Linked DNA regions of Homo sapiens. The protein of the gene in region 6 purifies or fractionates together with the protein of the main gene of each other region. This does not show direct contact. Each region holds a gene or a part of one and is shown on either strand. Other genes may lie near its edges. The genes, in order: NFU1, OAT, CARHSP1, KGD4, CYP24A1, THEM5 and GTPBP10.

The links.
Region 1: the proteins of THEM5 (region 6) and NFU1 purify together in Homo sapiens (co-immunoprecipitation; one large-scale study listed by IntAct). This does not show direct contact.
Region 2: the proteins of THEM5 (region 6) and OAT purify together in Homo sapiens (co-immunoprecipitation; one large-scale study listed by IntAct). This does not show direct contact.
Region 3: the proteins of THEM5 (region 6) and CARHSP1 purify together in Homo sapiens (co-immunoprecipitation; one large-scale study listed by IntAct). This does not show direct contact.
Region 4: the proteins of THEM5 (region 6) and KGD4 purify together in Homo sapiens (affinity purification with mass spectrometry; one large-scale study listed by BioGRID and IntAct). This does not show direct contact.
Region 5: the proteins of THEM5 (region 6) and CYP24A1 purify together in Homo sapiens (affinity purification with mass spectrometry; one large-scale study listed by BioGRID and IntAct). This does not show direct contact.
Region 7: the proteins of THEM5 (region 6) and GTPBP10 purify together in Homo sapiens (affinity purification with mass spectrometry; one large-scale study listed by BioGRID and IntAct). This does not show direct contact.

Annotation. Positions count from the first base shown.
Region 1 is NC_000002.12:69,413,436-69,416,935, forward strand, and holds part of NFU1 (NFU1 iron-sulfur cluster scaffold homolog, mitochondrial), read right to left. Parts: intron 1,865-3,500; coding exon 1,750-1,864; intron 1-1,749. UniProt on the Homo sapiens protein: Iron-sulfur cluster scaffold protein which can assemble [4Fe-4S] clusters and deliver them to target proteins.
Region 2 is NC_000010.11:124,401,924-124,405,423, forward strand, and holds part of OAT (ornithine aminotransferase, mitochondrial isoform 1 precursor), read right to left. Parts: intron 1,998-3,500; coding exon 1,875-1,997; intron 1,133-1,874; coding exon 1,004-1,132; intron 1-1,003. UniProt on the Homo sapiens protein: Catalyzes the reversible interconversion of L-ornithine and 2-oxoglutarate to L-glutamate semialdehyde and L-glutamate.
Region 3 is NC_000016.10:8,855,727-8,859,006, forward strand, and holds part of CARHSP1 (calcium-regulated heat-stable protein 1), read right to left. Parts: intron 2,747-3,280; coding exon 2,624-2,746; intron 1-2,623. UniProt on the Homo sapiens protein: Binds mRNA and regulates the stability of target mRNA. Binds single-stranded DNA (in vitro).
Region 4 is NC_000005.10:69,220,760-69,224,259, reverse strand, and holds part of KGD4 (alpha-ketoglutarate dehydrogenase component 4), read right to left. Parts: intron 1-3,500. UniProt on the Homo sapiens protein: Molecular adapter that is necessary to form a stable 2-oxoglutarate dehydrogenase enzyme complex (OGDHC). Enables the specific recruitment of E3 subunit to E2 subunit in the 2-oxoglutarate dehydrogenase complex (OGDHC).
Region 5 is NC_000020.11:54,167,487-54,170,986, forward strand, and holds part of CYP24A1 (1,25-dihydroxyvitamin D(3) 24-hydroxylase, mitochondrial isoform 1 precursor), read right to left. Parts: intron 2,203-3,500; coding exon 2,106-2,202; intron 1-2,105.
Region 6 is NC_000001.11:151,850,913-151,854,893, forward strand, and holds the start of THEM5 (acyl-coenzyme A thioesterase THEM5), read right to left. Parts: upstream 2,801-3,981; 5' UTR 2,654-2,800; coding exon 2,531-2,653; intron 1,548-2,530; coding exon 1,346-1,547; intron 624-1,345; exon of another isoform or gene 280-623; coding exon 141-279; exon of another isoform or gene 1-140. UniProt on the Homo sapiens protein: Has acyl-CoA thioesterase activity towards long-chain (C16 and C18) fatty acyl-CoA substrates, with a preference for linoleoyl-CoA and other unsaturated long-chain fatty acid-CoA esters.
Region 7 is NC_000007.14:90,345,315-90,349,515, forward strand, and holds the start of GTPBP10 (GTP-binding protein 10), read left to right. Parts: upstream 1-1,401; 5' UTR 1,402-1,427; coding exon 1,428-1,460; intron 1,461-4,201. UniProt on the Homo sapiens protein: May be involved in the ribosome maturation process. Complements an ObgE(CgtA) function in E.coli ribosome maturation. Plays a role of GTPase in vitro. When missing, disorganization of the nucleolar architecture is observed.

The DNA.
Region 1 (3,500 bases), on a different chromosome or scaffold from region 6:
ATATAGCAATTCCACTTTTAGGAACATAATCTAAAGAAGCTCTCGGCCAGGCAGGGTGGCTCACGCCTGTAATCCCAACTTTGGAAGGCCAAGGCAGGTGAATCCACTTGAGGTCAGGAGTTCGGGATCAGCCCGGCCAACATGGCAAAACCCCCTCTACTAAAAATACAAAAACTAGCTGGGCGTGGTGGTGCATGCCTGTAATCCCAGCCACTCGGGAGGCTGAGGTAGAAGGATCGCTTGAACCTGGGAAGCAGAGGCTGCAGTGAACTGAGATCATGCCACTGCACTCCAGCCTGGATGACAGAGCAAGACTCTGTCTCAAAAATAAGGCCGGGCACGATGGCTCATGCCTGTAATCCCAGCACTTTGGGAGGCCGAGGCAGGCGAATCATGAGGTCTGGAGTTCAAGACCAGCCTGGCCAACATGGTTAAACTCTGTCTCTACTAAAAATACAAAAATTACCCAGGCATGGTGGTGGGCGCCTGTAATACCAGCTACTTGGAAGGCTGAGGCAGGAGAATCACTGGAACCCAGGAGGCAGAGGCTGCAGTGAGCCGAGATCACGCCACTGCACTCCAGCCTGGGCAACAGAGCAAGACTCTGTCTCCAAAAATAAATAAATAAAAATAAATAAACAAATAAATAAAGAAGCTCTCCACATATTCATAAACAGACTTGTATAAGGATGCTCACTACAGCAATGTTTTCAATAAAAATTAGTACAAAAACTTTACTTGAACATAAAGGAACAAATTAACTATATCTTATTCCTATAATGAAATGCTATCCAGCACATAAAATGAGTAAACTAGAACTATGTTTTTTGAAATGGATATGTTTCAAAAATATTACACTTAGTAAAAAAGACAATTTGCAGTATAATACAAGATATTTAAGGTTAGGCACGGTGGTTCATGCCTGTAATCCCAGCATTTTGAGAGGTTGAAGCCAGGTGATCACTTGAGGTCAGGAATTCAAGACCAGCCTGACAAACATGATGAAACCCCATCTCTACTAAAAATACAAAAATTAGCTGGGTGTGGTGGTGCACACCTGTAATCCCAGCTACTTGGGAGGCTGAGGCATGAGAAACACTTGAACCTGGGAGGTGGGGGTTGCAGTGAGCCAACATTGCGTCACTGCACTCCAACTGGGGTGACAGAGTGAGAGTCTGTCTCTAAAAAAAAAAAAAAAAAAAAAAAACAGAGATTTAAAACTTAAAAACAAAAACTAGTCTTATATATTCCCTGCAGAGACTTACATGTATAGTATAAAACAAAACAAGTTTTCACACATCTCTGGAACTAGGAAGGGAAAAGGGATGGGGGTACAGTGGTTTTAGCGGTTTCTTTTTTTTACTTTATGCTCTATATTCTGACACTGTATGTTTAATATTTTATTTAAAATGAGTCTAAAGCAACTGTGGCAAAAGATAACATTTGTTTTGTTTTTCCCAAAAGCCCATTCTGTAACTTAATTAACATTTGTTAGATATGAGTGGAGGGCAAATTGGTGAGCATGATATTTTCTGCATGTTTGAAAATTTTTATAATTGAAAATTTTTGTTTTATAGAGTAATGCCAATTTATACACAAGCTTTCAAAATGATATATAAATTTGCAGAGCTAAATATATTAAATGATAGAAATCTAGATTCCTATGACTTCTGAAATCAAGGTAAATGTGAAGAAAATAGAAAAGTCTAAAAAAAGGACAAATTTTAATTACTCAATACAACATGTTACCTGCTTCTCCTGAAGGTGTTTCCTCAGTAACCAGGGGTAAGCCAGATGCAAAGAAGTCCATGATTGTTGCATAAATATCTGGTTTCAGTAAATTCCAGTCTAATTCTTCATTTTCCTATAAACATTTAAAGGAAAATGCTGTATTTCCAGGCAACGGCAAAGACCCATACAGAACACTACCTTATACCTCTTTTTTCTTTTTTTTTTTTGAGATGGAGTCTCACTCTGTTGCCCAGGCTGGATGGAGTACAGTGGTGTGATCTTGGCTCACTGCAACCTCCGCCTCCTGGGTTCAAGCGATTCTCCTGCCTCAGCCTCCCAAGTAGCTGGGACTACAGGTGTGTGCCTTGAACATAAAGGAACAAATTAACTATATCTTATTCCTATAATGAAATACTCTCCAGCACGTAAAATGAGTAAACTAGAACTATGTTTTTTGAAATGGATATATTTCAAAATTATTATACTTAGTAAAAAAGGCAATTTGCAGTATAACACAAGATATTTAAGGTTGGGCACGGTGGTTCATGCCTGTAATCCCAGCATTTTGAGAGGTCGAAGCCTGACCTCGTGATCCACCCACCCCGGCCTCCCAAAGTGCAGGGATTACAGGCGTGAGCCACAGCGCCTGGCCCCCTTACACCTCTTAAGAAGCTTTTCCTGGTCAGGTGTGGTAGTTCATGCCTAATCCCAACATTTTGGGAAGCTGAGGCAAGAGGATTGCTTGAGTCCAGGAGTTTAAGACTAGCCTGGGCAACATAGCGAGACTTCGTCTCTTTTTATATTTTTAAAAATAATAAAGGGAAAGGAAGAAAGAAAAAAGAGAAAAAAGCAGCAGAAAAAAGGAAAGGAGGAAGGAAGGCAAGCAGGCAGGCGAAGAGAGGAAGGTAAAAGGGAAAGGAAAAGAAAAGAGATAAAAAGAAAAGAAAAGAGGAAAGGAAAGGAAAAGAAAAAATATCTTTTCCTATATACACACTATACCTATGCAATGGCAACCACTTCTGGAGAATATATATTAGCTCCACATCTTAAAGGGTCCTGTTTAAACGAATTTCAGAAGATAAAATCTTAAAGATCCCCCATTCATTAATTCATTCACTTATTATTATTAATAATATAATTATAATTTATAATTAATAAAAATTAATATTTAATTAATTTAAATATAATTATTAATATATTAGTAATAATATTATTATTAATTCATTCACTTTCATTGTTTTAATTTGATTTAAATGATTAAAAGATGTTTTTCATGATGTGAAGACAAAATATTAAATGGATTTTCTGTCTTTAAAGAAGATGATAAAGAGATTCCCATTCTCTTAAAAAAAACATAGGATGTAATTGCTTGATCAAGTATACGGAACAGCCTACAACTATTCAAAAAATTTACTTATATATATTACTTAAAGGGTATGAAAGAAATTTGGCTGGGCATGGTGGCTCATGCCTGTAATCCCAGCACTTTGGGGAGGCCGAGGCGGGTGGATCACCTGAGGTCAGGAGTTTGAGACCAGCCTGGCCAACATGGTGAAAACCTTTCTCTACTAATAATACAAAAATTAGCCGGCGTGGTTGCAGAGGCCTGTAATCCCAGCTACTAGGGAGGCCAAGGAAGGAGAATCGCTTGAACCCGGGAGGCGGAGGTTGCAGTGAGCCGAGATCGTGCCACTGCCCTCCAGCCTGGGCGACGGAGTGAGACTCCATCTCAAAAAACAAAAAAAGGAAACAATATAGAGATAGTACAT
Region 2 (3,500 bases), on a different chromosome or scaffold from region 6:
CAGGCTTGAGTGCAGTGGCGTGATCTCAGCTCACTGCAATCTCTGCCTCCTGGACTCAAGCAATTCTCCTGCCTCAGCCTCCCAAGTAGCTAGGATTACAGGTGCCCACCACCACACCACACATGTTATTTATTTATTTATTTATTTTGTAGTTTTAGTAGAGATATAGTTTCACCATGTTGGCCAGGCTGGTCTCGAACTCATGACCTCAGGTGATCTGCCTGCCTCGGCCTCCCAAAGTGCTGGGATTGCAGGCATAAGCCACCACACCCGGCCAAGAAACTGATACTTAATGACTTCAACGAAAGAGTTTACATCTGCCAACCTAACTACCAGTAACAACCTAATGACTTAGTCATACCCTAAAACATTACAAATACTTTAGGTACACTTCAATGGCACAAAACAATATAATTTTGCAACTAAAAGAGAAAAGCTATTTCTGCAATGATATAATTTCACAATCACTTCCAACGTCGAGATGAAATGCTTTGTTTAAATGCTTAAAAAACAAAGCTGAGCATTCTTTTTAGCAAAAGTTTTGTCTATTCAGCAAAAACATCTATACTTCAGAGACCTCTGATGTAGTAACAATTACTGGCTCTGAAAGGCAAACCCAAGACATGAACTACAACAAACATTAATTTTTCTCAGTCTCTTTGTTCACCAGTCATGGTTTTAAACAATTAGTAATATGCCATGTTTCTGAACACTGGAAAAAAGGACAGGAGTCTACAGGAGTCCTTTGGGGGTAAACTGTTTCCACCCAAATCCAATGTCATAGCAAATTCCAAGGCACACTCAATTCTTCAGGCAATAAGTAAGTGGGTCACACACTGGTCCCTTAAATGTTTTTATTACAGATATTCCGGGTGGCCTGCAGCACACTTGGTAAAATCAAACAATCTGAAAGCATTGTTGTCACAATCAGTTGATGTATAAATACTTTAGGGGTATATTTTACAAGAGTAGGAAATGGAAAGAGGGGGAACATGAAACTTACAGGGTATAAGCCCCCAGAAAGGGCCTTTCCAAGGAGGACTATATCAGGTCTGACATTTTCATAATCAACAGCCAGCCATCTACCAGTTCTGGCCAATCCTGTCTGTATTTCATCAGCAATAAAGAGAACCTATTGGGGAAAAAAAATACCCCTATTAGTGATCACTTTCGTTTCCACAGGGAAAATAGCCATCCTTATTTCACTGTCCCCCCACCAACAATAAATGTGTAATTCTGATGTGCCCTCAAATTTGTAAAAATGTTTTAACTGCACACAATTTCAAGAGTATCCTATAAGAATCTTGTAGACTCACCAACTATTTCCTTTGTCAGGCCACTATCTCCCTAGAGGCCCATTCTGCCCTGCTCTACATAGTGAAAAGGTGCTGATGCAAAGGTGAGGGTTTTGTATGGCTTTTCTGGACCTAACTACCCTCTGGGAACAAATTAATTCATTTGTTTATTCCACAAGCATTTAATATGTGACAGAAACTCTCAAATGGTAAACAAAATATACTACTATTAGCCCTGGGGGAAAGGAGGAGAGAATACAACAAAGGGCTTGCGGGGGCTCAGAGTGAAAGGCTCTTAGAGCAGCGAGGAAGGAAACGCTGTTAAGACCAGGTCTGCAGTTCTGCACAGGGCCCAGGACAAGGCCAGAGACAGGAAAAAGTCTGCTTCTGTGCAGGTTTCTAAGCACTAGGAAGTACTTAAGCTCTTAGAATGCCATCGCCCTCTAGTGGAAAGTAATTTAATCTTTGCATTTATCCAATCAGCAGAATTCAGAGAGGAGTTGGGGAGGAGCCCATTCAGCCTCATCACAAACAGCTAACTCGACATTCAGCCTTATCACAAACAGCTAACGTGACAACCTGGTGCCTGGTGCAGAGCTCTCGCACTCCCATTAGGTAACCTGGATCCGGAACAACAACGCCTGCTTCACCCTGAATTGGTTCTACCATGAACGCAGCCACATTTGGATCCTGAAGAGCACGCTACAGAAGAAACAGGAATAAGTTTTAATAACTTCCTTTCTACCACACTTGGAAATCTGAAAGCATATACCACACATATTTTACATTAAGTATGCAAATCAAGTTTTCGCACTAACGTAAATTCTGACTTCAAATTCACTGCCATTCAATTATCAGAAGCTCCAAATACCTCACCTTTAAGTTACACTAGCCTACATTTCCTTTTTTGCCTCATTCTGTTGCCCAGGCTGGAGTATAGCAGCACAAACATGGCCCACTAAAGTCTCGAACTCCTGGGCTCAAGGTGATCCTCCTGCCTCAGCCTGCCAAGTAGCTGCGCACCATGCCCAGCTAATTTTTTATTTATTTTCATTTTTTTTTTTTTGGAGATGGAGTCTCACTCTGTCACCCAGGCTGGAGTGCAGTGGCACGATCTTGGCTTACTGCAGCCTCTGCCTCCTGGGTTCCAGCAATTCTCCTGCCTCAGCCTCCCAAGTAGCTGGGATTACAGGCGCACAGCACCACGCCCAGCTAATTTTTTTTTGTATTTTTAGTAGAGACAGGGTTTCACCACTGTCTCTGGTTTCACTGTTGGCCAGGCTGGTCTCGACTCCTGACCTCAAGCAATCTGCCTGCCTCGGCCTCCCAAAGTGCTGCGATTACAGGCGTGAGTCACCGCGCCTGACCTTGATTTTTAAATTTTTTTGTAGAGACAGGCTCTCCCTATGCTGCCCAGGCTGGTCTTGAACTCCTGAACACAAAGTGCTCCTCCAGCCCTGGCCTCCCAAAGCACTGGGATTACAGGCATGTACCACCATGCCCAGCCTGTTTTCTAATACACAAATGTACCTAAATTAAATCTGGCTGGGCACAGTGGCTCATGCCTGTCACCCCAGCACCTTGGGAGGCCAAGGTGGGCAGATCACTTGAGGTCAAGTGTTCGAGACCAGCCTGGCCAACGTGGCGAAACCATGTCTCTAAAGAAAATAGAAAAGTTAGTTGGGTGTGGTGGTGTGTGCCTGTGGTTCCAGCTACTTGGGAGGCTGAGGCAGGAGGATCACTTGAACCCAGGAAGCGGAGTTTGCAGTGAGACGAGATTGTGCCACTGCGCTCCAGCCTAGGTGACAGAGTGAGACTCTGTCTCAAAAAAAGAAATTAATTACTTAAATTAAATCTAAAGTAAATAGCCTTTTAAAGCCAACTTAAGGCTTTCTTAAAAAGTCTTCCACTTCATAATTTTAAAAAGCTAGCTAAAAACAGAAATTTTACCTAGTAAGTAAGCAGGTATACCGAAGTTAACTGTTATGAAGGACACACATCTAAAGTAGTTGGCTGGCTGTACAGAGTAGATCACAGAACTCAGCTTTCTCTGTGTTGGAAACTAATTGATCGCTACTGAGAACAAGTCTGAAATCGTGGCTTAACTTAAGTGAGATAAATTTGCATTACTGTCATATAATGTACTTTTAATTCATATATTCAACAGCTTTAATTTCTATTCCCAATGAGCTGAGCACTATGATG
Region 3 (3,280 bases), on a different chromosome or scaffold from region 6:
CTGGGCAGGGCTTTCCTGAGGTCCTCAGCACTGCAGCCCCTGGTTCCAGGAGTCTCAGAAACCGCACCGTGTCTTTGTTCTCAAATTCCCCAGTTTCCCAGCCTGCCTTTTTTTGAGACAGAGTCTTGTTCTGTTGCCCAGGCTGGAGTGCAGTGGTGTGATCTCAGCTTACTGCATCCACCTCCCGAGTTCAAGTGATTCTCCTGCCTCAGCCAAGTATCTGGGACTATAGGCACCACAGCCAGCTAATTTTTGTATTTTTAGCAAAGTCAGGGTTTCACCATGTTAGCCAGGCTGGTCTCAAACTCCTGACCTTAAGTGAGCCACCTGCCTCAGCCTCCGAAAGTGCTGGGATTACAAGCGTGAGCCACCACGCCTGGACTCCCGGTGAGCCTTCAAGAAGGTCCCTTTGGTGCATGAAGCTAGTTCCTGGAGGGGCCTCTCCCTGTGACCACCCCCAGGAAGGTTCCCTTACTTTCTAGGGGACATGAGTCACCCTCTCACATGAGACTGGCATCTTGATGTCCCCTTGATGAAACCCCCCCAGAGGAAAACCCCCTTCAGATGCTAAATGCAAGGGCCAGCCAGCTCCCCTAGTAACTGGTTTGTTTTGATTGGAGAATCGTATGGTGAAGAGTGTTTCCCTCTTTGATCTGGTCACGAGGGAGCTCAGAAATAAATCTGCAGCCTACTTCCAGCAGCAGAACCAGACATCACAATATTTCCATCTTCCTAAATATTTCTTTGCCCCAACCTCTATGTTTTCCTTACTGATTCAAAATCCTTTCTGGGACAAGGCAGTATGGAAATACCCTTACACATCCATGTATGCATGCATATGTGAAATGCGTCACCTTGGTATTCTCCTGCCTGCCGATCTGATAGGTAAGCATGGGGCGGGGGTGGGCAAAGGAGGGGTAACTCCCCCATTGCAGTGGGCTCCTCTTTTCAGAAATGTGGTTTCCGTGTTAGCGGGTATGCTGTGCAGAGTAGGACTCTGTCTGCCCCTGCCTGAAGTAAAAGACTTGGGGGTGCTTAGGCCAAAGAAGCAGGTAGGGACAAGGGTGCAGATCGAGGGTCCTCCCCTGTCTAAAGGCTGCCCAGAGGATCAGAGGTGAAGCATGGGGGGCTGGGTGCCTTCCAGCCCAGCCCTAGGATGTGTGCGCCCCACCCCCGGCTCCCCAAGGGTTTTCAGACACTCAGGAAGGAAGGACGTCAGTAAGCATGCAGGAGGAGAAAGACCCACCCCAAACTTCCTTCCTGGAGCAAAGGGGCAGGACAGCCCCCAGCCTCACCAGTCCACCTCCCCCAAAGGAGGGCAGGAAGCTGGACTGGTCCCCAGGCCAAACAGGGCTCCCCAGCCTCATGGGGTGTCCTTGGCCAGATATAATGGGCACTCGGACTCACCCCAGCAGTCCCTGCTGCTCACACACATGCACCATGCACAGCTGACACCACCCTGTCTCCCACAAGCATAGTCGGGCACCCCCAGATCCATTTCCATCACTTTCTGGCTATGTGATCTTGGGCAGATCTGTTTTTTTTTTTTTTTTTTTTTTTTTTTTTTTTTTTTGAGATGGAGTTTTGCTCTTGTTGCCCAGGCTGCAGTGCAATGGCGCGATCTCGGCTCACCATAACCTCCACCTCCTGGGTTCAAGTGATTCTCCTGCCTTAGCCTCCGAAGTAGCTGGGATTACAGGCACCCGCCATCATTCCCCGCTTTTTTTTTTTTTTTTTCTATTTTTTTGTATTTTTGTGATGACAGGATTTCACCAGGCTGGTCTTGAAGTCCTGACCTCAGGTGATCCGCCTGCCTCCGCCTCCCAAAGTGCTGGGACTACAGGTGTGAGCCACCATGCCCGATCCTTTTTTTTTTTTTTGAAATGGACTTTCACCCTTGTCACTCAGGCTGGAGTGCAATGGCGAGATGTCGGCTCACTGCAACCTCTACCTCCTGGATTCAAGTGATTCTCCTGCCTCAGCCTTCCGAGGAGCCGGGATTACATGCACCTGTCACCACGCCCTGCTCATTATTTTTTTTTTTTTTTTTTTGAGATGGAGTCTTGCTCTTGTTGCCCAGGCTGGAGTGCAGTGGCGCAATCTCGGCTCATTGCAAACTCCGCCTCCCAGGTTCACACCATTCTCCTGCCTCAGCCTCCCGAGTAGCTGGGACTACAGGTGCCCGCCACCATGCCCGGCTAATTTTTTTTGTGTTTTTTTAGTAGAGACGGGATTTCACCATTAGCCAGAATGGTCTGGATCTCCTGACCTCGTGATCCACCCACCTCGGCCTCCCAAAGTGCTGGGATTACAGGCGTGAGCCACCACGCCCAGCACACACAAAACCTTACACACCCATTCACAAAGACACACCCAGGGACAATCACAAGTACCGTGTCGCCCCCAGCCTCACATCCCCCAACACAGCTCCGTAGAGTCTCACAACCCCAACCCAACACACACACAGGAGCACAGCTGGAGCACCAGCCACAGGCAGAGTCACACAGGCCCAGCCATTCGTCCTCACACCCAGCGCCCATCAGAGTCACACACCATCCCCACCTCCACAGGGCCAAGGAAGCGCCCACCCCAGCCAGGCCACCCAGACCTGCCGCTGACTCACTCAGAGATGTGCAGGAAGATGTCGGGGCCGCCATCAGCTGGAGTAATGAAGCCATGGCCCTTGGACCGGCAGAAGCATTTGCAGACTCCTTTGTAGACGGGGCCCTGTGAAGCCCGCACCGTCCTGACAGAGAGGGGGAAATGTCAGGGGCCCCATCAGCGCTCCTGGGCACACAAAGCTCATTCCAGCCCCTGCCCACAGCTGTGCCCCATCAAGCCCTGGCCAGGACCGCCATGTACAGTCACACAGGCTGAGGACTGCACAACCCTCAACCCTGGGAGCCGCTCACAAAGACGCTGGGGGAAAGGACTCTTTGGATGACCCTGGCCAATTTTCTCGGGCCTGTTTTCCCTCCTGGAAAGAGGGAGTTGAACTAAAACATCACTGAACATCCCTCCAGAAACTAATGATTTACTATTAATAACACAAGCATCCTCCACTCGCAAGGCCTGAGACCTGCATCTGCCAGGCATTATGTGGGTCCTTTGCAGCCCTGGTGCTGTGCCCATTTTGCAGCTGCAGAATTCACAGTCTCACAGGGAACCAGACTCTCATGTGTGGTTAAAGCCCAGCGATTCTGACCCCAGCAACTGCCCACCCATTGCCACTCCCAGCTGGTAACAGGTTCTTCTGGGCTGGGCAGTACCCTGAATTTAC
Region 4 (3,500 bases), on a different chromosome or scaffold from region 6:
GCCACCACACCCCGCTAATTTTTGTATTTTTAGTAGATATGGAGTTTCCCCATTTTACCCAGGCTGGTCTTGAACTCCTGACCTCAAATGATCCACCTGCTTCGGCTTCCCAAAGTGCTGGGATTACAGGCATGGGCCACCATGCCCGGCCCAAATTAAAACATTTGATAGCACTTTATTTTAGTCTTTTTCCTATACCCATAGGAATACTTTTTTTTTTTTTTTTTTAGACAGAGTCTTGCTGTGTCACTCAGACTGGAGTACAGTGCCGCAATCATGGCTCACTGCAACCTCCGCCTCAAGGGTTCAAGTGATTCTCCTGCCTCCGCCTCCCAAGTAGCTGGGATTACAGGTGCCCGCCACCACACCCGGCTAATTTTTATATTTTTAGTAGAGACAGGGTTTCACCATGTTGGCCAGGCTGGTTTCGAACGGCCTCCCAAAGTGCTGGGATTACAGGCGTGAGCCACCATGCCTGGCCTGGAATACATATTTTTGGAATACTGTTTTTGGAACAGATGTTTGAAAAGTATTAACATTTTTGTCCGTAAAATTCCAGATAGTGGTACAGAGGACCTTAAATGGACCTGTCAATATGAAATCTTCTGAATATACAATGCTAAGAATCTAATGAACAAAGTACTATTTTCAACTAATCTATAAATTGCTATGTAACGAATAAGACTGAGGTGGGTTTATCTGCAATATATTTATATATTTGTAGTACATATTATGCATTTTATGTGGGCACAGAAGCAAATAGGTATGGGATTGGCCTAAAAATTCACCACTGTAATTCTGTGGCTGTGAGAAAATGCTGGAATGTGTTCTCTCCCTCACCATAAAATCATGCTCAAGTCTTCCATGCTAAAAAACTTCTCGGCCGGGCATGGTGGCTCACACCTGTAATGCCAGCACTTTGAGAGGCCGAGGTGGGTGGATCATGAGGTCAGGAGATCGAGACCATTCTGGCTAACACGGAGAAACCCCGTCTCTACTAAAAATACAAAAAAAGTAGCCAGGCGTGGTGGCACACACCTGTAGTCCCAGGTACTCGGGAGGCTGAGGCAGGAGAATCGCTTGAACCTGGGAGGCAGAGGTTGCAGTGAGCCGAGATTGTGCCACTGCACTCCAGCCTAGGTGAAAGAGCAAGACTTTGTCTCAAAAAAAAAAAAAAAAAAAAAAGCTGCGCACCGTGACTCACGCCTGTCATCCCAGCACTTTGAGAGGCCAAGGCGGGTGGATCATGAGGTCACGAATTCAAGACCAGCCTGGCCAAGACGGTGAAACCCTGTCTCTACTAAAAAAATAAAAAAATTAGCCGGGCGTGGTGGTGGGCGCCTGTAATCCCAGCTACTCGGGAGGCTAAGGCAGAAAATTGCTTGAACCCTGGAGTGGAAGTCCGAGATCGAGCCACTGCACTCCAGCCTGAGTGACAGAGAGAGGCTCTGTCTCAAAAAAAAAAACTTCTCTATTAACTGTTTCTTCACTTTCATAGCCAAGCTTCTTAAGAGAATGTTCTATCTATCCTATCATCACTCCCCTATTTAGAAGTTTGAAAACTGGCTGAGGTCAGTGGCTCATGCCTGTAATCCCAGCACTTTGGGAAGACGGCTTGAGCCCAGGAGTTTGAGACCAGCCTGAGCAAGAAGATGAGACTCCCTCTCTACAACTTAAAAGAAGAAAAAAAAGAAGTTTGAAAAATGTTCCACAGCTTTCAGGATAAAGTTCAAACTCTTCTTTGGCACTCACAACACCCATTGTGATCTGGCCTCTCCCTACTTTGCCAGCCTTTCTCCCCTACTGTCTTATGTACCCATTGCTCCAAGTATTCTGAAGTATTTTTCCTTTCCCCAATTCATCCTATTTATCCTCATTCCATCTACAGCTTACGTCCTCTGCCATGAAATCTCCCTCCTATCCCATTCCACTTCCATGCCTATCCTTCTGACTGCTTATCCTTTACAACAGCTCAAATGTCACTCTTCTCTAAGAACCTTTCCCAAATTCCAAAGTCTGAGTTAAAAACTCTCCTTATGTTTTCAGAGGACAGATAAGTTAGCCAATGATTATAGAAGAGCACTAAGCTCCTGGACAGTCAGAGACAGAAAACTAAGCACTTCTGCAGTAGCATTCCTGTTACATGGTAAATGCCCAAGTAACAGTTGCCAAATACGTGAATAAACCATTTGTAAGTTAGGTCTAACTGTATAGGCATGTAAATATGTATTATATACTTATACAAATGTACTTTTAATAGATATGGGGTTTTGCCATGTTGGCCAGGCTGGTCTCGAACTCCTGACCTCAGGTGATCTGCCCGCCTTGGTCTCCCAAAGTGCTGGGATTACAGGCATGAGTCACCGTGCCCAGCCTTATGTTTTCTATAATAGTCTTTTATCAGATATGTCTTTTGAAAGTATTTTCTCCCAATATGTGGCTTGCCTTTTTTTGACAGTGTCTCACAGAGCAGAATTTTTTATTTTAATGAAGTCCAGCTTATCAATTAATTTTTCATGGATCATGCCTTTGGTGTTATATCTAAAAAGTCATTCCTAAACCTAAGGTTATTTTTATTTTCTCCTATGTTATATTCTAAGGGTTTTATAGTTTTGCATTTTGCATTTAGGTCTAGGATCCATTTTGAGTTAATGTTTGTGAAGAACGTGAGGTCTGTGTCTAGATGGATATCCAATTTTTTCAGCACCATGTTGAAAAGACTATCTTTTCTCCATTGTATTCCCTTTGCTCGTTTTGTCAAAGATCAGTTGACTATCTCTTTATTTTTACCTTTCCAAATCTTAGTTTTAGCTATGCCTCTTATAAATAGCATAGCACTGGATTTTCATTTGTTAGCCAGTCTGAAAATGTTTTACTTTATTATTTATTTTTTGAGACCAGGTCTTGCTCTGTTACACAGGCTGGGGTGCAGTGGAGTGATCGTGGTTCACTGCAGCGTCAAACTCCTGGGCTCAAGTGATCTTTCCACCTCAGCCTCCTAAGTAGCTAGGACTACAGGTACACACCCACACACTACCCCTCCTGCCTGGCTAATTTTTTTTTTTTTTTTTAGTATTTATTGATCATTCTTGGGTGTTTCTCGGAGAGGGGGATGTGGCAGGGTCATAGGATAATAGTGGAGAGAAGGTCAGCAGATAAACACGTGAACAAAAAGGTCTCTGGTTTTCCTAGGCAGAGGTCCCTGCGGCCTTCCGCAGTGTTTACGTCCCTGGGTACTTGAGATTAGGGAGTGGTGATGACTCTTAACGAGCATGCTGCCTTCAAGCATCTGTTTAACAAAGCACATCTTGCACCGCCCTTAATCCATTTAACCCTGAGTGGACACAGCACGTTTCAGAGAGCACGGGGTTGGGGGTAAGGTTATAGATTAACAGCATCCCAAGGCAGAAGAATTTTTCTTAGTACAGAACAAAATGGAGTCTCCTGTGTCTACTTCTTTCTACACAGACACAGTAACAATCTGATCTCTCTTTCTTTTC
Region 5 (3,500 bases), on a different chromosome or scaffold from region 6:
GTTAGTCAGGCGTGGTATCGCACGCCTGCAATACCAGCACTTTGGGAGGCTGAGGTAAGTGGATCACCTGAGGTCAGCAGTTCGAGACCAGCCTGGGCAACATGGTGAAACCCCATCTGTACTAAAAAACACAAAAATCAGCCAGGCATGGTGGTGTGCACCTGTAGTCCCAGCTGCTCAGGATGCTGAGGCAGGAGAATCGCTTGAACCCAGGAGGTGGAGGTTGCAGTGAGCCGAGATCACGCCGCTGCACTCCAGCCTGGGGCAGAGTGAGAGTCTGTCTCAAATAAGTAATTAAAAAAAGTTACTTATATTTATCTATTTATGGCAATATTTCTGACCTTGAATTTATGGAAGTGTTATAGGTTTTCCTTCTATCCCTCCCATCAGCAGCCACAGTGATCCTCCCAGTAAATCTGCCCATATATCACACTGCTGCTGAATACATTCCCGCAGCTCCCGGTTACTTACAGGCTAAAATTCAAACTCCCGCTCATACAGCCCTCCATGAGCTGGCTGCTGGCCCTCTGCCAGCCTCTGTTACAGGATATGCTTGTCATTCCGCACTTCTTCTGCAGGGACACTCTCCTTCCTCCCTTTTCACCTGGTGAACTCCTACTCAACCATCAGGACTTAGCTGAGGGGCACCATCTCTGTGAAGCGACCCCTGGCCATGTCCGGCTTAGGTGGCCCTCTCAGATTCTCCCACAGCCCTGAATGTCCTCAGCCAGGCGCTGTCCCACCTGATCACAGCTGCCTGCTCTCCTCTTGCACCCCCATGGGCAGTGAGCTCTGCCCTTTATTTCCAGAGTAATCTTTGAAGAAAGCGGTCATGTCCTCCCTCCCTTACTTGCCCCATCTGAGTCAGATGAGAGGTAAAGTCTTGCCAGGACCTATGAGCTGTGCCCTGTTGGACACCTGCCTTCTTTTTGACCTCATCTCCTTTCACAGGCTCCCCTTCCTCCCAGCTTGTTCATCGTGATCCACTCACACCAGCAGCTTGAAGTTCCTCAAACTCGGCGCTCATGCTTCCACCTCCTGGCATTTGCACTTTCTTCTCTGCTGCCTGGAACAATCCTCCACAGGTACCCTCATGATTTGCTCCTTCCCTTCCTTTAGGACTTACCTCAAATGTCTTCTTACTAAAAAAGACTTGCCCCTCTTTCATTCTTTCATGTTATTTCTTTCTCTCTCTCTCTTTTCTTCTTTATTTCTTTTCTTTTTTCTTTCCTTTCTCTTTTTCTTTTCCTTCCCTCCTTCCTTCCTTCCTTCTCTCCCTCCTTCCTTCCTTCCCTCCCTCCCTTCTGCCTTCCCTCCCTCCCTCCCTCCCTCCTTCCTTCCTTCCCTCCCTCCCTCCCTTCTTCCTTCCTTCCTTCCTTCCTTCCTTCCTTCCTTCCTTCCTTCCTTTCTCTGTCTCTCTCTCTTTCTTGAGACGGGGTCTCACACTGTCACCCAGACTGCAATGCAGTGGTACAATCACGGCTCACTTTAGCTTCAGCGTCCCGGGGTCAAGCAATCCTCCCACCTCAGCCTCCCAAGTAGATGGGACTACAGGCATGTGCCACCAACCCTGACTAATTTTTGTATTTTTTGTAGAGACAAGGTTTTGCTGTGTTGCCCAAGCTGTTCTCAGATTCCTGGGCTGGCCTCAAGCGATCTGCCCACCTCAGCCTCCCAAAGTCCTGGGATTATAGGCATGTGCCACCATGCCTGCCTTTCATGTTCTTTCTTAACTCCCTTTCTCTTTTCCTTTACTCCTTGGAAGAGTATATTTTAAAATGTGTTTACTTGTTGACTGTCACCTTGTCTAGCATATAAGCTCCCCAAGGGTACAGGGGTTATGCGTTTCATTCATTGTCATATCCCTAGTACCTAGCACAGTGCCAGACACACAGCAAGTATTCAACAAATGTTTGTTGTATGACTCATTAACAATCCATAGTTCAAGGCATAACTTAAGCACCTAAAAGAAGCATTAAAAGGGCTGCTCTGGCCTTTCCCTAGGCAGCAATAATGCCTGTTTACAAAAGAGTTGTCAAAAGAGCCATGTTTTATCCGCAAAATCACCTGCAAAATCAGTGAGCAAGTCTGTGACGACAACTTACTTTCAAACGACCATTTGTTCAGTTCGCTGTACAAGTCTTCAACGTGGCCTCTTTCATCACAGAGCTCATCTATTCTGCCCATAAAATCGGCCAAGACCTTCAAAGAAAACAACCGCAAAAGACACATTTTAAAGCCGTTGAAGGAAAACAAAACTTTAAAGCTCACTGAGCTAACTTCAGGTCTTGCTACATCGCATATTCACTGGCCATAATGTTATTCATCCTGAAGTCACACTAATTATATATTCTCCCTGGGAACCCACCTTATCCCCTAATGACCTCGTCCTGGGTTATTTCCTGAGCTTTTCCTGAAGCCACCCTGAAGCTTAAGTTTCAGCTTTTGATCTAAAAATAATTCTGGCAATTTAAGAAAAGGAAAACATTTTTTTTTTCTAATCAGAATGGGGGAATAAAACCACAAAGGAATCAGCTAACTGTCCCTGTTGGCCCAGCATCTCAAGGATTGTGTTGCAGCAGCTATCCTGAGGTGTGCCCTTCCACATCTGGGCAAGCAAACGTCTCTTTATTGGTTGGTGGTTATGTTAAGCATGTTGAACTTGGAACCAGAAGATCTACCAATTCTGGACACAGCTCCTTCCCTAAGTAGTCTATGACCTTGGGATAGTCACATAAGACCTTTGGATGCCAGTTTCATAAACCAGAGTTTTCAATAACTAATGCCTCACATTTAATGAGGTCCATATGGTACCAAACACTGTACGAAGTGTATTGGTTGATCCTCTGACAACCAAGTAGTAGTAGGTACCGTCTCTACTCATTTCCCATGTAGTAGATGAGAAAGCTGAGGCTTAAAGAGGCCAAGTCACTCACTTATGCACACAGAGCTGATAAGTTGCCATCCTGGACCCTGCCGTGAGCTGGTGTGGCCATACAGCCCACATGTGTGGATTTAGTTTGCAAGTTTAATTTGCCCGCATAGCGCATTTAAAAGTTCTTTGAATTTGTTACCATTAAAAAAAACAAGAGGTTTCATATGAACATATGGATTTACCACTACTAGTTTAAAAATGTAAATAATAATTATGAGACTTGGTGACATGAGGTCTGCATTCTGACATGGCATTCGTTTGCTGGAACTGGGGCTGCTGTCCCTCCTGGGAGGGGCATGCACTATCACGTTTCCTGAAATTTTTACTGGGTCTGCCTTATTATTTTATATTAGTCATGTGAGCCCTGGAAGCTTCTGAGTTTGCAATCCTTCACCTATATGATCCCATCTGGGGACGCATCCAGTTCAAAATAAACATCCAAAGTGAACAGAAGTAAAAAGAGATTACTTTATGCTTAAAACTCCCTTTGACTCCGTGCTGGCTAAGGGATAATGTCCAAATACCTTAGTATAATACAAAAATATTGTTAAGACCTATCCAGTAT
Region 6 (3,981 bases):
GAGGCTGAAGCCTAGTGCCCCACACTCCCTTCCTCACCCCTTAGAGAAAGATAGAGACTCCAGGGCCAGCCTGGTGGGTGCTGAACCTGCCCTGCTGAGCCAAGCCCAGGAGGCAGCCAAGGTCCTACCAGTGACCTTACCCTGGGGGCCCCTCCAGGTAGGAGCCTGGTTGGAAAAGACAGACCGACTTCTTCTGGGTTGGCTGGAAAAAGATGACATACTCAAAGCCTTGTCCTTCCACTTGGATGCACCTGGTGAAGATGCGACAGTCACCTTTGTCTGGGGAGAGATAGGCAGTGTTGCAGCCGGAGAAGGGAGGGTATGGTCAGGATGCAGCACCATTTGGTTGAGTCTTGCCTCTGGTACAAGATTAAGGAGAGAAAACCAGAGGACACCAGGTCCACCCCCAGGGAGCCTTCCCTCTGGGAGCAGAGGCACAGTTGCTGTCCTCACAGAGCCTTTCTGTCTAGGGCAGAAACATGCAGGAAGTGCCCTGGCTGAGAATGGAGATAGGATCAGGGCCAGGGCAAGACTTTAAGAGACCATAAGCATTGAAAATTGAAAATGTAATTACTCATGTAACTCACATATAATTCAAAAGAATAATAGTAAACAGTAAAATAAGAGCAGAAAAGTCCATCAAAGTTCTGATTTTTTTTTTCCAAGACAGCTACCACTACTACATCCTTTTTTGGAAGTATCAAATTCTTTGAAAAAAAATTATGTTGGTATTCCTGCTTTGTTTGTGCCATAAACCCAAGGGTAGTCTGTCCCCTGTACCACTCCTTCATCACTAGGCAGGAAGACAACATATATGAGTGAGAGAGACAGGGAGATACACATGCGTGCACACACGAGTGCACACACACACACAAGAAGGTGGAAGCTCTATCATTAGGATCCATTAGGATCATTAGGTGTTTCAGGAGTGCTGCTCCAGACCCCGCACAGCAGGGATGATGTGCAGGGCCTCAGTGGAAGGGGTGTGGGGTCCAAGGGCTTTCATGGGGTTGGGGCGGAAGGCTTGGGATGAGGCTTGATAGTTAGGGAGGGGCAGTCAGTGAGAAGTCGGGGCAGGAGCTGGGCTGGCTGTCCTCCAGTGGGGACATGCTTGGCTGGGAGCGAAGGTGGGCCCACCAGGGTGTGCTGCTTCAGATGGGAGGAGGGGAGCTGGAGACCTGAGAGGACACCCGCCGCCTGTTGCCTGGGGCTGCAGCATCAGGGGTGGAGTTGGACAGCAGGAAGAACTCGCTGAGAACTGGAAGGCGGTCTGTGAAGTTGCTTCTCAGTCTTAGAACACAGGGAAGGGCGGCTGGGGTGTGTGTACTCATGGTCCTGTCCTTACCTGAGGAAACTGCCAGTCCAGATGGGAGCTTGAGTCCCCGGATGTGGTCTCTGTTGGACTTGAAGGAGGGCAGCTTGATCCAGCCGCTAGACTTAGTCTTCTCCAGAAATTCTTGGTACAGGCTCAGCATGTCCGAACACCAGCTGGCATTGGGAAGAGCATAATCCTTCAAGTCTGTCTTCTCTGGCAAGAATCTTGAGAACTGGGCAGGAAAAATCAGAATGACTAGACAGCATCCTGGAGGGGGGCTGCTGCCTGGGCTCGGGACCTCTAAACAGCTGTTCCTGGGTGCTGGGGCTTCTCAATCCCTTCTGCCAGAGTATCGATCCAAGGGAAAGGGCCCATATTCCTTGCAGGGGGGCTGCGGACCCCTATGGGTGACGGGGCATAAGGATGCTAAAGAGCAAGGGAAGGGCGGGCAGGGAGTGGGGCCAGAGATGATGGGCATGCTGCTCGATGTGGTGCCTTACCCTTGTTCTGCTTAAAACATGTGAGCAGTTCTTTAAAGTTGACAACTGCTCATATTAGCCTCACTGTACAGATGGGGAAACTGAGGGAATACGGCCAAGGTTGCCAAGCATGTGACTGTGAGAGCTGGTGGTCGCACTAGATGCTGTCTCCTCTGCAGGGCAGGGTCACAGTTGTTGAGGACCATTCTAGCAACCCCCACCTCAGGGGCTACTCCAGCTCTGCCCACTGCTGTGGGCCTGCCTGGGCAGGGTGGCTCCTTTGAAACACATTTGGGCCCCCACAGAGGTGTGGTGCCATGGCTGGGGCACAGACTATGTGCCCATCTGTGTGACGTAAGGAAGTCCTCTGTAGCGTCACCTGCTCATACACCAGTCACAACTGTAGACAGCATGTGAGCTGCTTGCCAATGCCACAGATGGGGTCCTCTGTCTGGGGATACCCCAGCTTTGCTGCAGTAGTCTGAGTCCCACAGGAGGAAAGTCATTTGTTGGTGGCCACACAAGACACAGAGCCAGATGCAGGTCTCCTGGTAGTTTTAGTTTTGAATGGGGGCAACTTGGTATCCCAGAGCACTTTCTCTTTGCCAAATCAAATAGCTCCTCCGAACACTGCCCACCTGCCCTGGCCATGGGCTGGGAAGAGGAGATTTGGGGTGCTCCTTAAGCCCTAGGCTCCTGGGAAAACACTGCCCATCTGGCTGAGCTGGGAACTCACCATGGAGTCTGTGGAGGATCCAAATGCTGAGGCAGGGTTGAGTCTGGGCAGGATACGGGGGGCCTCAAGAAGGCCTCTGTGGTGGCCAAGTCTTGCTGCCACCTGGAAGCATCTCCTTATCATGGCCAAGTGCAAGGATCCAGCCCTGCTTGGATGGAGGGTCTTGGCTGACTCCCAAGGAGTGCTTTCAGCTGCACTTGGGGCCGCTTCTCTCCCTTCTGTTGCAGGCTTTCTTTCAGAGAGCTAGGCGAGGCTGGGCTGGTGTGCTGCAACACCCACAGATGCTCGGCGCCTTTAGCTGGTCTAGGAGCCCCACCCAGTGCTTGGGGAGGGACAGATGCTGCTTGGGCATGAAAAGGCAGCAGGACTGGCTTGAGTTGCAAAAGGAGTAAACAAGTACATAAACAAATAGTATGGGGTATATAGAGCCTTGGAGAGCTGCCTGGGGGTTCTGAGGGAGAATCCAAGAATATTTCCAGAAGGATAAGGGAAGCCTGTCCCTTGATTGGAGGGTGCTGGTGGAGTGTTCTTGGTATGTGCTCTGCAGTGTATACCGGACTCTGAAAACTCTGGTATGATTTTGTGACTCAGAAAACCAACTCACAGGCCGGGTGCGGTGGCTCACGCCTGTAATCCCAGCACTTTGGGAGGCCGAGGCGGCGGATTACGAGGTTAGGAGATCGAGACCATCCTGGCTAACACGGTGAAACCCCGTCTCTACTAAAAAAAATACAAAAAATTAGCCGGGCGTGGTGGCGGGTGCCGGTAGTCCCAGCTACGCAGGGGGCTGAGGCAGGAGAATGGCGTGAACCTGGGAGGTGGAGCTTGCAGTGAGCTGAGATCTAGCCACCGCACTCCAGCCTGGGCGACTGAGCGAGACTCCGTCTCAAAAAAATAAAAATAAAAAAATAAAAAAAAAGAAAACCAACTCACAGCCTTAGACACCTCTTTTTTTTTTTTTTTTTTTTTTTTGGTGAGACGGAGTTTCAATCTTGTCGCCCAGGCTGGTGTGCAATGGCGTGATCTCGGCTCACTGCAACCTCCGCCTCCTGGGTTCAAGTGATTCTCCTGCCTCAGCCTCCTGAGTAGCTGGGATTACAGACACACACCACCACACCCAGCTAAATTTTGTATATTTTTTTTAGTAGAGATGGGGTTTTGCCATGTTAGCCAGGCTGGTCTTGAACTCCTGACCTCAGGTGACCTCCCAAAGTGCTGGGATTACAGGCGTGAGCCACCGCACCCGGCCAACACCTCTTCTTATATCCCGGACAAGGGTTAGCACAGGAGAGTTTCACCTGCTGGTCTCTGGCTGGGGATAGGAGTTGGAGGTGGGGGAGGGCTTGACAGGGAGGGCAGAAAATAATTTGGGAGGAAACAGCTTGGCAGGGATACTCTCATGTTTTGGGAACCCCGTGCCCAGGGAGTGGCTCATGTCAGCAGGCAGTGCT
Region 7 (4,201 bases), on a different chromosome or scaffold from region 6:
TGTTAATATTCAACATTAAAGTAATCCACAGAGGGAAAATACAACTACTGCAGGTTAAATGACAACTACAGCTTTTCTGATTGGTGGTTGTAAGCAGAAGGTCCAGTAGCAGCAAAGTAATCAAGACGGGGTTTTCACATCATGTCTTTCCAAATAATCACTGTCCTAAGTGAGGAGTAGAAGACACTGTCACATTGAGGTATTAGTCAGTTTTCACAGTGCCATAAAGAACTGCGCAGACTGGGTAATTTATAAAGGAAAGAGGCTTAATTGATTCACAGTTCTACATGGCTGGGGAGGCCTTAGAAAACTTATAATCATGGCAAAAGGGGAAGCGGAAACAAGCACCTTCTTCACATGGCAAGCAGGAGAGAGAAGAAAGAAGGAGGAACTTCCAAACACTTATAAAACCGTCAGCTCTTGTGGGAACTCCCTATCAGGAGAGCGGCAGGAGAGAAACAGCCCTGCATGATCCAATCACTTCCCTACTTCCACAATGGGGATTACAAATGAAGATGAGATTTGGGTGGCGACACAGAGCCATATCGTATCAAAGTATGAAAGGTTTCTAGGATTTATTAGTTTGGGTTGTTAAGAGTTATACGGCTGGCAACGCTGTGCAGGGCCGTTTACTTCAGCTGCATACATTTTTTCGCTGCATGAGGGGTTGGGGAGAGCTACTCTCTTCTGGTCCTGAAAAGTAATCAAGAGAGAGAGGGATTTTTCACATCGTGTCTTAATTCTCACAAAGGCACGCTTCAAATGACGGATAAAAACCCGTCTTCCCGACTCCAAGAAGCTACTTTCTGACAGTTGTAAACAAGCTTCTTTCTCTTACTGCACAGGAGAGTCCTCTTACAGATCTCAGATCCTGACATTATTTTCAATAAAACTTTGTGCGGCCGCTAGTTTTAAATTCATGGTCTCCTGGAAGCTTTGGCTGGAGACTACTCAGCTCGTCACTGAACTAACGGCTTTTGGGGGTTCTTTTTTCCCAGTTGAGTTTCTGTGTCTTTTACACGTTTGGTTTTATGGTCCGTTGGAGGTTTTTTCACGCTGAGGGTGAAGATTCTTAGTTTCCTCAATTAGCATAAAAGCTGCTCCAAGGCTGCTGAGTCTTCAGTTCCATTCCATTCAAAATGTTAATTCCTGAGACACGCAACCTACGCCCTACTGTCCTTTGTCCCACGGCTTCTCGAGATTATCTCTGTGTTTTAATAGATAAAACGCCTTCTCTCCCCACCCGTGGGGTGCAAAGCACAGCGCATGGGGCTGGTGGCGCCCGAGAGCATCACACAACGCATGCGCCAGTCCGCAGGTGTGGGCGGAGGAGAAATCGCGTCGGCGGCAGGGGATGACGTAAAAAGGCCGCGCTGTACTGCGGCTTGTGCCGCTTCCGCAAGAAGGTTTCCTGGCCTGTTGCAGCCATGGTGCATTGCAGTTGCGTGTTGTTCAGAAAGGTCCGTGCGGGTCCCCTCAGCCTGGTCCCCTTAGCGCTGACAGCTCTGGTTCTTCTTTGCTCCCCTGTCTCTCCACTACTGTCTTCGTGGCGGCCTTTTCCTTGCTTGGTTTTCCCATAGACTTCTCCGCCCCTCCTGTAGTGGCGCTTTGTCAGTAAGCGGTGACAGTGGTGTGTGTACCTGGCGTGGTTTGGACGGTTGTTTGGGGGCAGGGGCAGGGTTTGAAGTTCTTTAGAGACATAGTGTGCACGTGGTATGAGGAACTGGGATACCTGCCTGCTGTGGCCCAAATGTTGTGGTGGTTTTTTTTCCTTTAATGTCCACAGCCTGTTTTTATATATTTCTCCTTGAGTGCGCTGTTTAAGGTTTTTCTAATGGATTTTTATGAAGACACGAAAGCGTGTAATTGATGTGCCTTCCTGCAGAACATTTAGGTCGATTTTTGTGTGGTGTCGGTCTTAAGAATCGTTTCCGTAAAAATTTACAACTGCTTTGAATTTTTATTTTTTAAATCTTATCCTATCAGTAATGCTTTTTGAAACGTTGCCTGCGTCATATTTGGCCATTACTTTATTTCTAACGACCAGAGTAAAATACTCCTTTTAAGTAAGGCTCCTAAACCCCTGAATCTGATTAATCTAGAGCAGGAAAAAAGTGTTACATATTTAATGGAACTGTAGAAACTCTCCTCGAGTATATCAGAATGGTCAATATTTCAACTTTCTTGAAAAAAAAATCCCATTTGTTTTTTATAATAGCTATCCTAAATGACTAGAGATGTGGATTATGAATTTAAGAAATTACTCCTTAAGTTATTTTGATTTTAATAGCCTAAGAGGTTAATACGTAAGTCCTTTACCTACAAGAAGTTCTTGATTTAGTGAAGGAAACAGGTAAACACTAAATGCAGCGTGAGATTTATAAAGGTGTAATAATAGAGATATAATCAAATTGCTGGGAGAGCCAGCAAAGTCAGAGAATTGATTAGAGGAATTTGGAAAGACGTTAGAAAATATGACGTTTAGGTGGATTTATGATAGGAAAAACAAATGACATTCTAAGTAGAGGAAAAGCATGAGCAGAATGGCATGTAGAAATGGCGGTATTTCATGTAGTACAGAGCAAAGAGGAAGAGAGGAAGGGTTGAGCAAGTGAAAAGGATACAGGAAGGAACTAGGCATGGTAGGTGAGCCTATTGTTCTTGCTACTTGGGAGGCTGAGGTGGGAGGATCCCTTAAGGCCAGGAGTTCAAGACCAGTCTGGGCAACATAGCAAGACCCCATCTTTAAAACAGTCGGGGTGGTGTGGTGCCTGTAGTCCCAGCCATTTGGGAGGCTGAAGTGGGAGAATTGCTTGAGCCCAGGAGTTTGAGGCTGCAGCAATGATAGTGCTATGATAGTGCCACGGCACTCGAGCCCAGGCACCAGAACCAGACCCTGTTTCAAAAAAAAGAAAATAAAAGATACCAGAAGGGTATTTTAGTAGCTTTGGATATACAGTTGACCCTTCAAGAACATGGGGGTTAGAGATGCCCCCGCCACAGCTGAAAATCTTCATGTAACTTTCAACTCCCCCCACAAAACAACTACTAATAATCTGTTGGCTGGAAGCCTCACTGATAACATAAGCCGTCAGTTGACACATATAAAATATATATATAGTATATACTGTATTCTTAAATTAAGCTAGAGAAAAGAAACAGTTACTAAGAAAGTCAGAAAGAAGGGAAAATATATTTACTGTTCATTAAATGGAAGTGAATTGTAAAGGTCTTCATCCTTATAGTCTTCATGTTGAATAGACTGAGGAGGAAGAGGAGGAGTTGGTCTTGCTCTCTTGGGTGGCAGAGGCAGAAGGGGTGGGGGTGGAGGAGGTGGAAGGGGAGGCAAGAGAGGCAGACACACTATGTGTAACTTTATGGAAGTACATCATAATTTCTGTCATGCTTTTGCTTTTCTCTTTCCCCCAAAAAAATGTTTCTATAGGGTACCAATACCTCTTCCACCATTTGCTTTGGTTTCAGTGCCTCTTCACAGAAGGGTCCATGTCATAAAAGAAGTCAAAAGCAGTCCTGAACAATAGGAGCTCTTCTGCCAGATTATCTAATGTTCGTTTTTCTGGTAGTTTATTCTGTGTTTTCTTCCTTGTTATCTGGCACTGGATCTGAAGCACTCATCAAGCTGTCTTCTGTTAATTCCTCTGGTTTGGTGGCTGTTAGCTCTTGAGTTTCTTCAAGATCCATATCTTGAAGTCCTTTACCCACTTTCCCGCCGTTTTTGGCATATTCACAGCCTCTTTCATGATTTCCTTGATTGGCTCTTTTGTAAATCCTGTGAAATTATAACACAACACAACACCTGGACAAAGTTTTCTCCAGCACGAACTTACTGTTTGGGGCTTATGGCTTTCATGGCTTTTTCAATAATAATGGCATCTTCAATTATGTAAACTTCAGATTTTCCTGAAGTTTTCTCTATTAGTGTTCTTTTCCATGGTTGACAATCCTTTTCGTAGAAAATCATGTTTAATGAGCCTTAAAGGTCCTTGCGACCCCGTGATCTAGAGGCTGATTTACAGACATTGTGTTTGGGGGCAAGGACACCACTTCAGTGCCTTTGATGTTGAACTCATGGGGTTCTGGGTAGCGGGGAGGTGGGGCACTGTCCATTAGCAGAGGAACTTTACAAGTCAGTCTCGTATTGGGAAGGTACTTCCTGACTTCAGGGAGAAAGCATCCATGG